2 separate regions of the Homo sapiens genome follow, and region 2 is linked to region 1. The links come from fine-mapping of genetic effects on gene expression. Tissue or cell type: skeletal muscle. Region 1 holds a variant in brackets; the other region holds the start of a gene. All regions are shown on one strand. Distances are from middle to middle.

What was found. PIP is the estimated chance that this variant, and not a neighbour inherited with it, causes the effect.
Region 2: it holds the start of SMOC2, and the variant in region 1 is fine-mapped to the expression of SMOC2 in skeletal muscle (GTEx, PIP above 0.99).

Annotation. Positions count from the first base shown.
Region 1 is chr6:169,115,982-169,124,122 of GRCh38, reverse strand. No RefSeq gene overlaps it. Among named protein-coding and RNA genes, the nearest start is that of LINC01615, 43 kb to the left of the region's middle. The variant T/A (reference allele first, on the strand shown) is at 3,414.
Region 2 is chr6:168,437,400-168,445,540 of GRCh38, reverse strand. SMOC2 (SPARC related modular calcium binding 2) reads right to left here and starts at 4,357. Exons shown (of 13, transcript NM_001166412.2): 1 at 4,087-4,357. The coding sequence starts at 4,170.

The sequences.
Region 1 (8,141 bases):
CCAGTGACCCTCACTGTAGTAGGAGTAGAAAGAAGTAGTGTAAGGTTCCTTCCAATCTGAGCTTAGAGAAGATTAAAGGGAAGGTAGTACCTTTAGCAGCACCAGGTCTCCTGGGTTGAATAGAAGTGGCTCTGGTTCATGGGATTGGGCCTCTGACAGATATTTTAGTTCCTGTTGGAAATGAGCTAAAAAAGTAATGTGTTTAATAAAATCAGAAGTTTCTTGGTCTAGCAAGAAATCATTGCTGAGAAAAGGCTGTCCATACATCATTTCAAAGACACTTACACCCAGCTTTGAAGGGGTGTTTCTAATACATAGTAGGGCTATGTAGAGAAGGGTAGTCCAGTGGACATAAGTCTCCTGAGACAGTTTCCTGGTGTGCCTTTTGATAATACCATTTGTCTTTTTCACCTTTCCTGAGAATTGTGGTCTCCAAGCACAATGAAAATGGTACTGTATGCCTAGTGCCTTTGAGACCCCCTGGGTGACAGCCACCTTGAACAAGGGGCCATTATTACTCTGGAGGTACTTAGAAAGTCTAAAATGAGGAATTATGTTATTGATTAGTACTTTTATCACCTCAGAGGCTTTCTCTGTTCAACATGGAAATGCTTCTACCCAGTTAGTGAAGGTATCTATCCATACTGAGAGATATTGGATGCCCCTTGCCTTTGACATGTGGGTGAAATCCATCTGCCAGTCTTCCACTGGGTAGCCTCCTATCTTTTGGGTTCCTGGGGGAAGAAGCCATCACTTGAGAGGATTATTTTTAAGGCAAGCCTCACAAGCATTAACAGCTTGTTTAACCATTTGTATCAGGTTTTTACCTGAGAACAATCTCTGGACCAATTTAGGTTTTTTTCTTACCTAGTGGAAGGCCTGAGGAAGGCTTTTAAGAACTTTCCGTTGGTTGGCAGCTAGTAGATGAGACTTGCTGTCCTTCAATTGTAGCCACCTGGAAGACTAAACGGTGTATCCATGAGAGGTGGCCCATTCTATTTCTGCAGCAGACTATTGAGGTTTTATTTCCCTGATTGGGCCCTCTCAGATGAGTGGACCTTCAAGTGGGTCAGAGACCTGGGGCCCCCTTGCTGCTGATTTAGCTGCTTGGTCTGTCAACCTATTTCCCTCAGCCACTTCATCCATTCTTTTTCAGTGGCCTTTACAATGTATTACTGTCACTTCCCATGGGAGGAAAACCAAGGATAATAGTCTATTAATTTTCTAATGGCATTTAATGGGAGACCCATTAGCTGTGAGGAAGTTTCTCTCTTTCCAGATAGTGGCATGGGCATGGAGGATTAGGAAATTGTACTTAGAATCAGTATAAATGTTAACTTCTTTCCCTTTGCTTAATGCAAGCCCCTCGATGAGGGCAATTAGTTCGGCTAATTGAGCACTTGTGCCGGAGGAGAGAGGTGTGCTCTCAGCAGTATCACTCAGGGTAACTATTGCATACCCTACTTTATATGTCCCTTGTTCTACAAAACAACTTCTGTCCCTAAAGAGAATCCAGTCTGGGTTCTCTAAGGGAGTTTCCTTGAGATTCTCCCTCAAGGGAGGGAGGAAGTCGGCTGGATTTAGGAAGGGACAGGTTCTTAATTGGACTGCAGATTCCTCTAATAGCAGAGCTTGATATCTGAGGAGATCGTTGTCCATTAGCCAGAGACTCTTCTTAGAAGACAGCAGTCCTGCCACATTATGTGGAATGTAAGCAGTGAAGTTATATCCCATGGTTAACTTAGTAGCCGCTGATACCAGCAAGGCTACAGCTGAAACCACCCAGAGGCAGGCTGGCCATCTTTTAGCTACCAAATCAAGCTCCTTACTTAGGTAGCCTACAGGCTGCTGGGCTGGACTGTGGGCCCGTGTTAGAACTCCCAGTGCCATTCCTTTTCTTTCTAACACTAAAGATTGAACATCTTCCCTATGGGGAGACCAAGGGCTCCCTTAAGCAAGGCTTGTTTTAGTTGGTCAAAGGCCTTTCTAGCCTCTGGTTCCCAAATTAGACAGTGAGTTTTAGCTGTCTGAGTCTCCTTTATTAGGTGGTATAAGGGCTGAGCTATTTCACCATACCCAGGTATCCATAGTCTGCAAAATGCTGTAATGCCTAAGAATCCCCTTAGTTGCTTGAAGGTTGTGGCGAGGGGAAAGGAAGAGATGGCCTTAATCCTTTTTTCACTGAATGCTTTGGTTCCCTCTGACAAGACCAGGCCTAGGTACTTCACTGAAGCTGGCAGAACTGAGCTTTAGATTTTTTTAAACCTTATATCCTCTGTTAGCCAAAAATTAAAAAGAGCCTTACTGCCCTCCTGAGAGATTTCCTCAGAGCACAGAGGAGAATGTCATCTACATATTATAAAAGTTTAACCTGAGGATAAAGGAACTCAGAGAGGTCCCTTGACAGTGTCTGTCCAAACAAGTGGGGGCCATCTCAGAATCCCTGAGGTAACACTGTCCAGGTTAACTGGGTGATTTGGTTAGAGGGATCCTCAAATGCAAATAAATACTGAGAGTTGGGGTGTAATGGTATGCAGAAGAAGGCATCCTTTAGATCCATGACTCTGAACCATTTAGTTCCCTCAGGTATTTGAGCTAGCAGAGTATATGCATTGGGAACCACCAGGTGAAATGAGGCAGAGGTCCCAAAGTAGCCTCCATTCCCTGCTGGGTTTTTGTACCCCCAGTATGGGGATATTACAAGGGATGTTGCAGGGTTTGAGGAGGCCCTGCAAACTTAAGTTATCAATGACGGCTTCGAGTCCTTTCCTAACTTCTGATTTCAGGGGATATTGTTTCTGGTTATGATTGGAGGAGGGATCTTTAAGGTGGGCCCACACAGGTATGGTGGTTGTGGCTTGGCCAATCTTCCCTTGAATTGCTCAAACTTCTGGGTTAGTATTGGTTTCCTCTAGGGGGAGACAAAGAGTTTGTCCTGGGCCATCAGAATGGTGGTCCCAATATGGGCCAGAATATCCCTGCTCAACAGAGGAGTTGGGCTTTCAGGCAATTAGAAAGTCACGGGTGAACAAGAGATCTCCCCAACTACAACTAAGAGCTTGGAAAAAAAATGGGTTAAAGGCTTTCCTGAGACACCCCTCATGGTTGTGCTAATGGAGGAGAGGGGGTCTGGATTGGAGAGGAGAACCAAGAGACCAGCCCCAGTGTCCAAAAGGAAGTCCACTTTCCTCTCTTCGAATTCCAGAATTACCTAGGGCTCCTGGATGGTAATGGTGGTCTGGACCACTGGAGCTGGGGAGAGGAGCCCCAGGACCCATCAGTTCTGCTGCTGGACCATTTGGGAGATTGGTTCTGGATCCAGTGACCAGTGTCCCTGGGGACAGTCAACCTTCCAGTGGTCCCCATTGCAGATTGGACAGGGTTGGAGTGGCTTCCTCATGCTGCCTAGGCAA[T/A]CCTTAAAATGCCCCAGCTTACCACATCTGTAGCAGTTAACAGGTGCACCTTGGGAGTTCTGGGGTTTGTGGGCTTGCATGGTGACCATTAAGTCCTCTGCCTCTTTCCTGTGTTTCCTCTCTCTCTCTCCTGGGCCTCCCTATCTCTATTATAAAAGACTGAGGTGGCCACTTTCAGGAGGTTTTCTAAAGTACTATCTGGTCCAAGGGCCTGTTTCACAGCTTTCTCCTAATATCAGGGGCCGCCTAAATAATAAATTTATCTTTTAGGATTAGTTGCCTCTCAACTGAATCAGTAGATAGAGAGGTACTTTACCAAGGCCTCTCTTAGCCTTTCCCAGGAAGGTAGTGGGATTCTCGTCAAATATCTTGTCTCTCATAGATAGGTTGCTATAATTGAGAGGCTTGGTCCTAGTACTATGTAAGCCCTCCATTATACACACTTGAAAGTATCTCCTCTTCCATTCTCCCATCAGGCCTTTGGGATGCCATTTAGGGTCATCCACTGGTACTGCTTCTCTTCCATTTGGATAAAGTTTGACTCCTTCCCTGGCACTACATGTGATACAAAGCTCTTCCCCAAATTCCTTTACCACTTGCAGAGCAGTCTGCTTCTCCACTGTTAGTCAGGGTTTGATTCAAAAGTAACATAATGTCTTTCCAGAAGTGTTCAAATACTGAGGTTAAATTCTGGAAAGCCTCTATATATCTGTCAGGGTCATCTTAAAACTTGCCAGATCCCCCTTCATTTGCCTTCAGTCCTGTAGAGAGAGGGGACCTGGAACTTACTGGGGCCAAACTCGCCAGGCATCTGTTGGAAGGGCAAGAGTGAGACTGGGGCTTATCTAGGGTGAGGATTTCTAGGTGGGGGCAATTGAGAGAGAGAAGCTGGATAGGGAGGATGGGGTGGACCAGAAGAACAGGGCCAGAGGGAGCTGGCTCCTCTGCTGGAGGGGCCTCTAGGGTTAATTTCTTTAGTTCCCTGGGATTGCCCCTTGCAGCCTCTCCTGAGATGGCAAACAGAAGGGCTGGGTCAGTCCTAAACTGTCAGCAAAGGTCTGGATTACCCTGCAAGGTATAGAAAGCCTGCACGTATGGGGCCTCAGACCACTTGTCATCCTCAGGTTTACAGAAAAGGTCTAACTGTAGGTTGGTATTGAAATGAATGCTTCCTTCCTGAGGCCAAGCTAGCCCTTCCCACAGATCATAATTCAGCCAAATCTATGTGCAGAAGGCTATGAGGAATTTTTCCTCCAGAGTCTGAGGGTCAAAGCAGTCTCAGTGATTGAGGATCCACTCCAGGGAGTATAGACGGGGGGTGATGAAGATAGCTGGTTGCCCATTCTCAAAGATAGGGAGATAGGTGTCCCTCGTTTCCTTTGCTCCTTTCAGCAAAAACTTGGGGTGTGAGGGAGAGAGAATGTGGACATCCCCCTTTTCTCTTCTGTTTTTTTTTTTTTATCCCCAAGACTCAGTGACCTTAGATGGACACCATCCGTGGGTGCCATTGCGGCCAGCACCCATTAGGCAGGGAGGGCCTAGAGAGTAGGAGTTGTCTACACTCACCTATGCCTTCATCCCTCCTACTGTCAGCAACCTTTGGGTTACCTGGGCCCCATCTATGCCATGGAGCATGGCCTCCTCCCATGAAGCAGGGGCTTAATCATCAGGAAATAGTCCTGCCCATTTATACTGTGCCTGTTACCTTGCCTTGGATTTCTCCAATCTGGTTTTCCTTCTAGGGCTTCAACTAGAAGCTTGGAATCAAATTTGGGCCAAAAAGGTGTCTCAGGGGATGCGTGGGTCCATTTAGATTAATTCTCACACTGGTTTTGCCAAACTTGCAGTTCATAGTCGGTGGTGTCACTCCTTTGTTGCCTCCCTGTTATAAGCAGAGTGTTGAGGTAGGAGAAGAACCCTCTCGCATTGAAAAGGAAAGAAAAAAGAGGTTTAAGAGGGGGGAACTCTTGCTTTCTGCAAACGGGTTCCTTTAATCACTGCATCTCTCCCCCAGTTTGGACCAAGCTGAACTCCTTGGCCAGGGGAAGAAAGGCTCTGTGGGTGTATGGCAGGAGGGGATGGCGAGCAGGAAGCACTGGCCAGCTGGCTGTACAGGGTCCCTGGCCCCTGAGGCTGCCCTGGGGCCCGGGTGTCATGCATAGCTCACTCCCACTCTCACCTGGCTTGGCCACTGGGCACGACACATGCATGCAGTGGACATGCCCAGGCCCTCCAGCCGGGAGGGGAGCCACTGTGCACAGCATGTACCTGCAACTGTGGGGGTGGAGTGGGGATGGAACTGCTAAAAACAGACGGAAATCATATTGATCTGAATTGCTACCTGATGGCTGGGCCAGTCTCTCACTGTACTTAGTAACATGTCAGCAGTTTGCAGCAAAACCCTTAACACTATAAAAGAAGAGATAGGAGCCATTTCAAACCATGAAAGAAGGAAGGAAAGATACCATAGAAAAGTCTGGGGGTCTTGGCTGAACCTTAACAGGTGGTTGGGGACCAGGTTCAGTCATGTGGCCTTCTGGCAGCACCAAGGAGTGGCATTGGCCAGATGCCTTCAGTTGCCCCAGAACTTTATTCCAGTCCCATGCAATGGCTCCACTTTCATGAGGGGAAACAGAGCCAACATTCCTTTCACCTGAAAGAAACAGAGAGAGGGTACAGTTGCTTCCTGTCCCCTTCAAGTGCTTAGTTCAGAGGAAAGTCTGAAGACAGAAAGAAACAGATAGGGCAAATCTGCATTTACTCACCCTTGCAACGTACCCTGGGAAAGCCCCCAGATGAAATGCAAAATTTTCCTCGACCACTTCACGGGCCTCGAGACAGGGGTGCCTCATTTACTTGGCCTACAGCTCTCAACCCCCTGTGGGAGAGGGAGCGTGCAGGTGAGCAGGTGCAAAAGCTGCAGCAAGCACTTTTGGACACTGACAGGACCAAAACTCCATGCACCCTGGTGGTAACATCTAGGGGGTATGTACCCACGAACCTTGAAGCCTAAAAGGGCATACGTTACAGTGTGCTGTTTTATCTTTGCTGTCTGCAGATGGCTTAAGTGTTAACAGCTCAGTAGAAGATCAGTGTGACAGCCTTTTGCACCCACACCCAAGTCCTTGTCTGATGTCCAGGAGGAATGAGGTTGCACGAACAAATCGAATGGTGGTGAATGCAGAGGATTTTATTGCTGATGAAAGCAGCTTGCAGTGGGAAGGGGAGCTGAAAGGGGGATGGGGCAGGAAGGTGATCTTCCCCTGGAGTCTGGCCATCTCCAGGCAGACTCTTCTCTGAAGTCCTGCTGTCAAGCCATCCCTCAAAAGTCAAGCTGCTGCTCTTCGATGTCTGGCTGCTTTTTCTCTTCCCTCCTTCTCTCTGCCCTCTGCCAGTCAGGTCAGGGGCACAGGATGTGGGGTAGAGGCAGGCCATGGATGGTTTTTAAAAAGGCATCATTTGAGTGGGAAAAACAGAGATGTAAAGTTCTCTCTTTGGGCAGCAGTTCCAGGCTGGAAGGTGGGACCATTGCCAGAGACCCTGTCCTTTTCTGCCTAGAATTTCTCTGCATCCTGTGCCTATCAGTATTTTTCTAGTTATTGGGTGTAACACTATGCATGCACACAATATTTTACATTATTATTTTAATTTTATAAATGAGGAATCTAAGACTAGTAGAGATTAGAAAACTGCCTCAAATTGTCTGGGCGCAGTAGCTCACACCTGTAATCCCAGCACTTTGGGAGGCCAAGGCAGTTGGATCACAAGGTCAGGAGATCGAGACTATCCTGGCTAACATGGTGAAACCCCCATCTCTACTAAAAATACAAAAAATTAGCCAGGTGTGGTCGCACGCACCTGTAGTCCCAGCTACTCAGGCGGCTGAGGCAAGAGAATCACCCAGGAGGCGGAGGTTGCAGTGAGCCAAGATCGTGCCACTGCACTCCACCCTGGGTGACAGAGCGAGATTCCGTCTCAAAAAAAAAAAAAAAAGAAAGAAAAGAAAACTGACCCAAGTTTACATAGCAAGTGAATGTCTACTGTTGGTGCAGGCAGAGTTTAAATGTTTTTGAATTAGTTTCTAGTATTTCAGTATTAGACAATTTTTTATGCATGCTTGAATGAGGGGTTTCTAGTTAAAAAAAAAAAACGTAGCCCAGGAAGGGTGGCTGGCAGCTGAGCCCATGGGGCACAGGAGCTGAGTTGCACCAGCTGTTGCTCTGGGGTCCAAAAGGCAGGCCCACCCACCACTCTGAGGCCAACTGTCATGTGTACCTTCTCTGCAATGCAGCACGCATGAGGACAGTTCTGGTGGAGAGTGACCATCTCTCACACCAGTGTTCATCTCACACATGTCCACAATAAGACCAGGCTGGGCATTCCCTCAGGAATAGCCTCCTCTGAGTTTGGATCACATATATTCATCAGCAAATGTTTAATAGCGAGGTGTGAGTTCTTCATCAACAAAAACATGCTCTTTCATTCAGTAGCATTTAAAATAGAAGATACTGTTCTTCAGGTAGTTATTTTTACAATTCATTTTAGTAAAGATTTCTCAGGAATCTGATGACACCAATCTACAAGGTGGAACAATTTCTTTATATTATAACCTCTGGTCTTAATAGTTAGTTAGTTTCCCCTTCCCCCACATTGACTATCTTTTTGGTAATTACAGGACTCAGAAGTACTTTGTGTTGCCCTGGTTTAATTTTTTTTTTTTGTGGGTAG
Region 2 (8,141 bases), 680 kb after region 1:
CTCAGAAATGGAATAGCATTTTTATTTTGGCTGTTTCAGCAAAATCAATATTAAATCATCTCATGAACTTGCTAATGAAACTTTAAAAAAATTACACATGGCTAAATATTGTTTTCTTATCACCTTTCTTCTCTTTCAAAGCAAATAAACACAAATAGGAGTGGGAAATAACTGTTTCAGGTCTGTGGTCATGCATTCCACAAGACCAATAAGAGGCATTTACCAGGTGCCAGACCCTCTGTGAGAAGATGAGGATTCAGGATGAAAGTCAACTACAGTCTGAGAGGTGAAACGGCAGTGTGGAATTGTAAAGTTCCTGAAGACAGTGCAAAAAACAGTGCAGGGAACTCCCACGAAGAAAGAAAAATAATGGCAGGATGACTTGAGAAATATTCGGATCTGCTTAGTGACCAGGTGCCCTTCAGAGTCTCTCAAAACTTCAGTTTCCTCATCTCTTGAATGTGGAGACAACGGTACCTTTAACGAAGTCGTGCGTATGACCTTAGGGGAGCGTTAGGTATTGGCAGTAAGAGAAGTCTGAGAAGGATGGTAATGTGACTTCAACATTCTAAGTGTGAGCAAAATATGATTTAGTCAACATGGGAATGAATACTTTGGCTCTAACCAAAAACTTCTGGGAAAGGGGTCCCAGGCAATATTGTTCTTCTCTCTGCCTTTAAAGAAATCACCTAGGTATGGGCTTATGGATCAGTCCATCAAAATTCATATAATGACAACCATGATAAAGTTGAGTAATTGTGATCACGCCTGTTTGCTCTTTGAAAACAGAATTATGTGTAATAAAAACCATTTATACTAGAGATCATTCCCTCATCTCAGTCATTCACAGAAATAAAAAGGAAAATGGGCACGGTGTGGCATTCAATGTACCTCCTTCTTCAAGGAAGAAATTGACCTGCATCCAAATTAAGAGCGCATTGGACACACTTAAGAATGCCATTGTTGACTGGAGGTGAGAGGGTCTGAGCAATAACCAGGAAGTTGTGCAAAGCCATCAGAAAGTCACAATGAGAGACACAGAGGGCCTCATGGTGCCATTTCTAAAGAATGACTTTGGTGGAAAGAAGAGAGATCATTACCAGACAAAGTGGATTCTCTGAATCTTAAACATAAAGTAGCAGAGGTGAGCACACCAGCAATGCTGGACCCACCAAGAAAGCACACTCACCATAGGTGAGTAAGACAAATGCGTGGTCCTGAGAAGCCAGGTATGGCAAACTGAAAGCCCCAGAGAGGCTGACATATTTCCCTGCTTCTAGATGAGAAGAAATGAATGGAGTAGAAGGAGGCAGAGAGGCAAGCTTTCCTCCTTGGTCTATAGAGTCCCACATGGCTACTCCCACAAAGTCCACAGATACACCCAGAGCCAAGTGGTGTGCTCTGAGAATCTGCGGCAGGTGAAAATACTGCAAAGTTGAATCCACACACACCTTAATGCCACAACGCTATATGCATTGATAATTACGGTATCAATTGATAGCACTCTCTTATACGGACCCACGGCATGGGCACCATCAAAACAATGTTAGCTGGAGAACTCACATATAGTAGGCGCATTAAAAGCCCTACCTTTAATCCTCACCACATGCTTGAAAGAGATTATGTATTCTCATTTTACAGATAAGGGGACTGAAGATTATGAAATTAAGTAACTTGCCTGAAGTCACACATCCAGCAAGACCCTAAGCTGTGGGTCCCACCCACTGCATGGACTGATACTGCCTCTTGATTTATTAAAGTAGGTAGGATGCAAATCGTAGGGAGAGAAGGCCCTTCTTTGAATGAGGGCCTCCGGAGACAAAAGAGATTTCCAAAAACCAGAAGGCAATTTGAAAAGAGATGAGCACACTGAAAAATCCTGCACATCTCACATCTCCCAGCGACCAGTCAGATTTCAGGCCTGCCTCAGTTACTTTGTAACTCAACTACTTCTTGATTTTCTAGACTGGGGGTGGGGTGAGAAGAAGTGTGCCAAAATGTGTTATGGCTTTAATCTTTTCTTCGGGATACTGATTTTATTTGCAAATGTAAATTTCAGGCAAACTGTTCTTGGGGAATGCAGCCAACAGGGCAAAGCCCACGTGGGGTATCAGCTCCTGCACAGAGACCCCACATGCAGCGGGTCTCACCGCAACCCAAGACATCCTTGGGGCAACCTCAAGGGGGCAAAAGGTGAGAGGGTTCAAGTAAATAGTTAGATGAGACAGGGGAGAGAAGACAAGAAAACCTGCCGAGTCTTAAACTGTTCTAATTACTAACTACCTTGATTCTGCTCTTCCAGGGGGGACCAACAGGCCCAACCCCACCCCCCACACACACAGGGCAGCAGGCAGATGGCAGTCTCTACTTTTTGCGCTTTCAGAAAATCTGAAAATCCGTGGCAACTGTAGGTACCTGCTGCTACAGTCCTGGAAGAAAATGCTATGATCTCCTTTGGAGAATTGGCCTTAGTTTCTCTGTCTCCTCTAGTGTGCTTTAAGAGTATGTGGGGGGTCTTTTTGTGAGTGTATACGTGAGTATATTTATGTCTAGATGCATGTACAGATGTGCATATACATGAATGCCTCCAGTGAGTATCCTCTGAGGGCCCCCTCTGGGGAGATAAAGGATCTTCAGGGAAAGCCTGAGTGTGTGAAAACCTCCTTGGAGCCCCAGTTAGCAGTTTCTAATCTACAAGTCATTTGTGAGACACAAGGCAGGGACCCCGGGCTGCTGCAGAAGAATTTGAGGTATGAGCAATGAACTCACAAACCATCCTTCACACTGCTAAAACGCAAAAGAAAGAAGACGAAGAAAAAGAAAAAGAAAAAGAAAAGATGCCCACATGACTGTTTTAAATTTGCTGAAAGGCAGAACCGACCACAGCTTATTTCAACCATCTTTATTTTCAATACAATAAACACCTTTAGGACAAGTCCCCGGCCACTTAAAAAAGACGGCTGTCCACCAGAGGCGTTCTCACTACCTTCGTGTTTTCTCAAACACTTGTTCAAAAACACATTTAAGTGGAATGTTTTCGTTTCTGGCGATTGCATTAATGATGGGTTTGCAAACCCTGCAAGCCCAGGAGGACGGCTGGAGCTGGGGGCTGCAGACACCCGGCCTTGGCCCAGCGGCCGCCGCGGGTTGGCTTGGCCGGCGGGGGCTTGGCTCAGCCCCCTCTACATAGCTCCTCGTTTGACACCGCGTGCGTTGGCCGGGCCAAGGCTGTCGCATAGAAGTTACAGCTCAGAAAGAAAAACACACAGCGGTCAACCGCGGTGACCCTCGCGCTCAGGAGCGCAGCATCCCTGCCACGAGGAAGAACCCAGAGGCCCCGCAGAGCGGGGAGCCGCCGCCTGCCTCCAGTTCTGTCCTGAGAAGGGAAGAAAGCGCTTCTCTAATAACACTCAGGCCCGTGAAGAATCATCTGTAACCTCATCTGCTTCTTCCTCGGCTCACTTACGAGGGTCTCTGGGAGAGTCAGACCCACGAGTGGGGCCCACGACTGGCAGCCCCTTCAGCCGGCGAGAGGCCCGGGATCCGCGCGGCGCACGAGCCCAAAGCGGTCGGGAGAACACGCTCCAGGCCGGGTCCCCGTGGGCGAGGTGGGCGCCCAGTCCCGGCGGGTCTGTCTTGGCCTTGGGACAGTCCGCGGGGCGGCGCCGGCGCTCCCAGACCTGGTTCCCCACAGGCTCAGGCCCAGCAGTGAGTGCGGGACACCCGAGCGCACCCGCAGCTCCCACTTGTCCGGGGTCTGCAGGACCCCAGGATCCTCTCACAGCCGGGTCAGAGCCCCCGAGGCAGGTGGGGTCCCAGCCGGGTGGAACCCGAGGAGCCCGTCGCAGCCGCAGCAGGACCCCGGCGGGCAGGGTCCCCAGAAGCCCATCCCAGCCGGGTCCCAGGCGCGCACGCTGCGTCCTACCTGCTCCAGCCTCGCCGGCAGGCGAAGGCTCCACGGCCCCCGGGGCCACCTGCTCCCCGTGCCCAGGCGCCTGGGCCTGGAGCGGGGCGCGGGGACCCGAACCCGGCCGGCTGCAAGAGGCGGCACCACTTGAGCTCCAGGTCCCGCGGGCCCGGGCTTACCGTGAGCGCCGAGAACTTCTGAGCGGGCACCGGCGGGAGCAGCCCAGCGAGCAGCGGCAGCCAGCAGAGCTGGGGGAGCAGCATGGTGGCGGAGGTGGCGGGAGCGGGAGATCGGCCGCGTCCTGCGCCCTGGCACTGCAGCCGGGAGAGCCCAGTGGGCGAGCGCGGCTGGGCGGGCGCGTGGAGGGGCGGCTCCGCGATGCTCTCCCCACCGCTCCCGGCGGCCCGGCTGGAGCAGCTCCCCTGCAGGCACCCAGAGGTCCTCCGCGTTCTTTGCGTCCGCCCTCGCTCCTGTCAAATACCCCGGAGCTTCCCGGATCCTCCCCTCCCGCCCGCCTCTCTCCCTCCCCCTCTCCTCCCCCAGCCCCACCTCCCAGCGCCCGCTGCCGCGCCCGCTCCGCTCCGGTGCCCGCTGCGGCCCAGAGGCCTCCCTGGCGCGGGTCTGCGGAGCGAGAGGTGGAGCGGGGGCCACCAGGGCTGCGCAGTGGCCTGTCCGGGCTGTCTCTGTGCCTCCTTCCCCGCGCGCACTCTCACACACACACGTGCACACTTACACACACGCACACCCAGGCACACGCACGCACTCATACCCACGCGCGCGCACCCTCGGGGGGCTTCCAAGCACAACCACGGGACGCACCGCGCCCTCCTCACGCCCCAGGGTCCAGGCCCGGTCCGCGCAGGATCAGCCCAGCGGGACTTTTCATCCACAAAGGTTAACGCCAAGCCTTGGCCGGTCCCCAGACTCCGGGGTTCTCCTTGACCTCTGCCCTCTAAGGCCCCCTGGTCCAGCCCAGAACATTGCCTCTCAGAGGTGCTGAAGGATCAGCGGCGCTCCAGCAAAGGCAGCTGGGAACACATGTCCAGGAAAGGCTGCGCCGGGGGCAGCCCGCCTTTGGCATCTTTACACGGGGTTATCCACTGCAGGGATGGGGGAATTTAGGTCCTAAAGATCCGGGGTCTGACCTGGGCTGTAGCCTTGATCCTCTCAAGTCGGGGGAGCATGTGGTTGGGCATCATTCACAGACACATGTGGCTGTTTTTAAACAGCTCTGTCAAAGCATTTCAGGTGTTTGTGCGGGGAGCACAGGGCTTGTGGAGGTTGTAAACTCACCCACGAAGACTACGTTGGAAACCAGGAAATTTTTGCACACCCAGACTCTGGATAATATCCACTGCAGACAACATTGCTGACATAGTTTAGCCTTGGCTTATAACTTTACAGGAAAAAGCCCTAATTCTGTCTCACACAGAAAGCCAGAAGAGTGAAGATTTGTTCAAGAACAATGAATCAATTGACTTGTCAGGGGCATTGGGAAAAGCACAAAACACAGAAAATCCAAATCTGAGGTTTCATCCGATGTCTAGCCCACTGCTTTGGCTATGAACTTTGGGGGAGGGGGCTGTATCAGCAAGTTCTGGGACTGGCTGCTGAGGCAAAGGCAATGCTATTGCAACCTTTCCCACACAATTTTATCAGGAAAGTGATGTCCGTCGGGCCACGGAAAGACGGGAAAGAAATGCACCTTTTCCTGAAGGAGGGCTACTCTCAGAATTCTCCTTAAAATTCCAAAGCCCAGGGAATCTATTAAGCACTTAAACACATTCCTCCTGGTTTAAGGACTTAGAAGGAAATTATAATAAAACTCTTGAGGGACTGCTCCTGGGTCCAGAAAAACAGGTGAGCAGAGCAGCTGCAAATGATTAAGTAAATAGGAATCACTGTTAGGGAACTGCAGTGAAAATTAAAGTAAAAAGAAAATAAACACTACATACCACTAATTCTAAGATTATCCAAAGAATAAAATTTACACTCGAAGCTGACATACTTCCTTTAAGAAGTATTTGCTACTAAAGAACCTGTTTTTCACTTTCCACTTTGTTGAGAGTACTGCTCGTCAGAACTCAAAAGTTTGAAAGCATGTTCATTTATCCACCATCGTCCGCTGCAAGAATGGCAGACAAGAAGCAGACTTAATTATTCCCATTCTACAGATGAGGAACAAAAGTCAAAGGGGCCAAATGTCTTAGCCAGATCTCCTAAGCAACAAAATCATAAACAGAATGCAGATGTTAAAACCTGCAATACTGGCAAATCCATGTCACTTCCTCTGGCAATATGGAGAACAGAAGAAAATCCTTGGCCCTCCGTGCCTTGTATTCAAGAATCCCAACACGTCTTTCATGTAGCAACTCCAGAATCCTCTGGGAACTCTAGGAAGATAAATGAAATGCATTTGTCCAAAACTCTGACAGATGAGGCAGGTTTGGAGCCTTTGAAACCCCTTTCAAATCTGGAGGAGCTCATGTGTCCTGAATGCCAAATTTTAGTTTCTCAAAATTCTAGAAATGGAGTTTGGAGAGATAATCAGGTTCCATTTTTATGGAGAAAAACAATACATTTATTTAAAACACTGGGAAAGAGTTATGTCTGTCTTTTATTTGTAAGTCTCCAAGAAAGTTATTACTGGCAGGAATGCCAGAGAGCTGTCATGTTAGAAAGGATAGAAAAGTAATTCACTCAGTTCAAAGTTAAGACAGGAAGTGATCAGCTCTATACTTTCCAGAGAGTTCCTCTAGGATGCAGGAAGAAGTTCCCCTCTCTTGGAAATGTAGGTTTTTTTGTTTTTTTTTTTAATTAAAAAGTGATGCAGGGCCCATTCTAAAATGTGGCTTATGCATTCAGAATTTAAATGCCTGTCACTGATGAAAGTTACAATAAAGAACAGCAAGAGAAACTAATTACCAAAGACTCCAGCTGTTTTCACATTTCTAAACTAACTTTCCCTCTTAGGCCATTAGCAAAATGCTTTATCATGAGTATTGGCTTCCTTTTTATTTATTTTACTATGCTAAAACTGCAAAAGGATTTTATTTTCATTATAGAAATGATATAATTTAGTTATTATTTCTGGCTAATTCATGTTTAGCCAGAAAACTTTTTGTCAGCTATTTTCCCATCTCAATATGCCAAGCATAAGTTTAGTCAAATATCTCTTTGTTGATGCAGTGACTTCCAGAAATCCCCTCTGCCATCACTCTGAGTATCATCTGGGACTGAACTCAGGTCACTGTTCATACTCTGAGAATCACCCCACATCATCAGTCACCTGCCAGTCACTTATTAATGTTTTCTCCTAGTTTCTACTTAATCATGGGAGCAGGAGTTTTCACCGTTCACCTGGACTTTCTTAGGTAAGTTCTGTGTGATTTTCCTTTTAGACTACCCCCAGGCTGGACCCGAGAATCTGTAGTTCCCCAGGTTTCTGGAGTCTCTGTCCTCTTGTTGGCTTGTTCATTCTGATGACTTGCATCTTCCTTTTAACTTGTTCCCTTCAACCTACGGAAAAATGATGCAGGATCCCCACATCAATCCCAGGTTTTTAGCCCAAGTTCTGCAGCTTCACAAACCTGTGAGCCATATAGAAAGGAAACCACATCGGCAGAGTTGACAAAATCAGAACAGAGCACCGCCGAGGCTCACCGTCACCGCGGCTGCAGGATGAGGCCAGCGTTGACACACCACGTTGAAAAGTGGACAGTGGAGTTGTGTGTTTGATCCTTGGGCCTGACTCAATGGCTTTCTTCCTATTTTGATATATTTAAGTAACAGAGAATTTGGACTTTGTGCTCAACAAAATAATTAAACAAGTTTCTTCTTTTTTTTTTTTTTTTTTGAGATGGAGTCTTGCTCTGTTGCCCAGGCTGGAGTGCAGTGGTGCAATCTCGGCTCACTGCAAGCTCTCCCTCCCGGGTTCACACCATTCTCCTGCCTCAGCCTCCCGAGTAGCTGGGACTACAGGCGCCCACCACCACGCCCAGCTAATTTTTTGTATTTTTAGTAGAGACGGGGTTTCACTGTGTTAGCCAGGATGGTCTCCATCTCCTGACCTCGTGATCCGCCCACCTCGGCCTCCCAAAGTGCTGAGATTACAGGCGTGAGCCACCGCGCCCGGCCTCTTCTTCCTTCTTAAGATGCCTGAGGACAATTTTTATGATAATACTTTTCAGGCACTTTGTGGCAAATTTTTAAAAAATAATTTCAGCTTTTATTT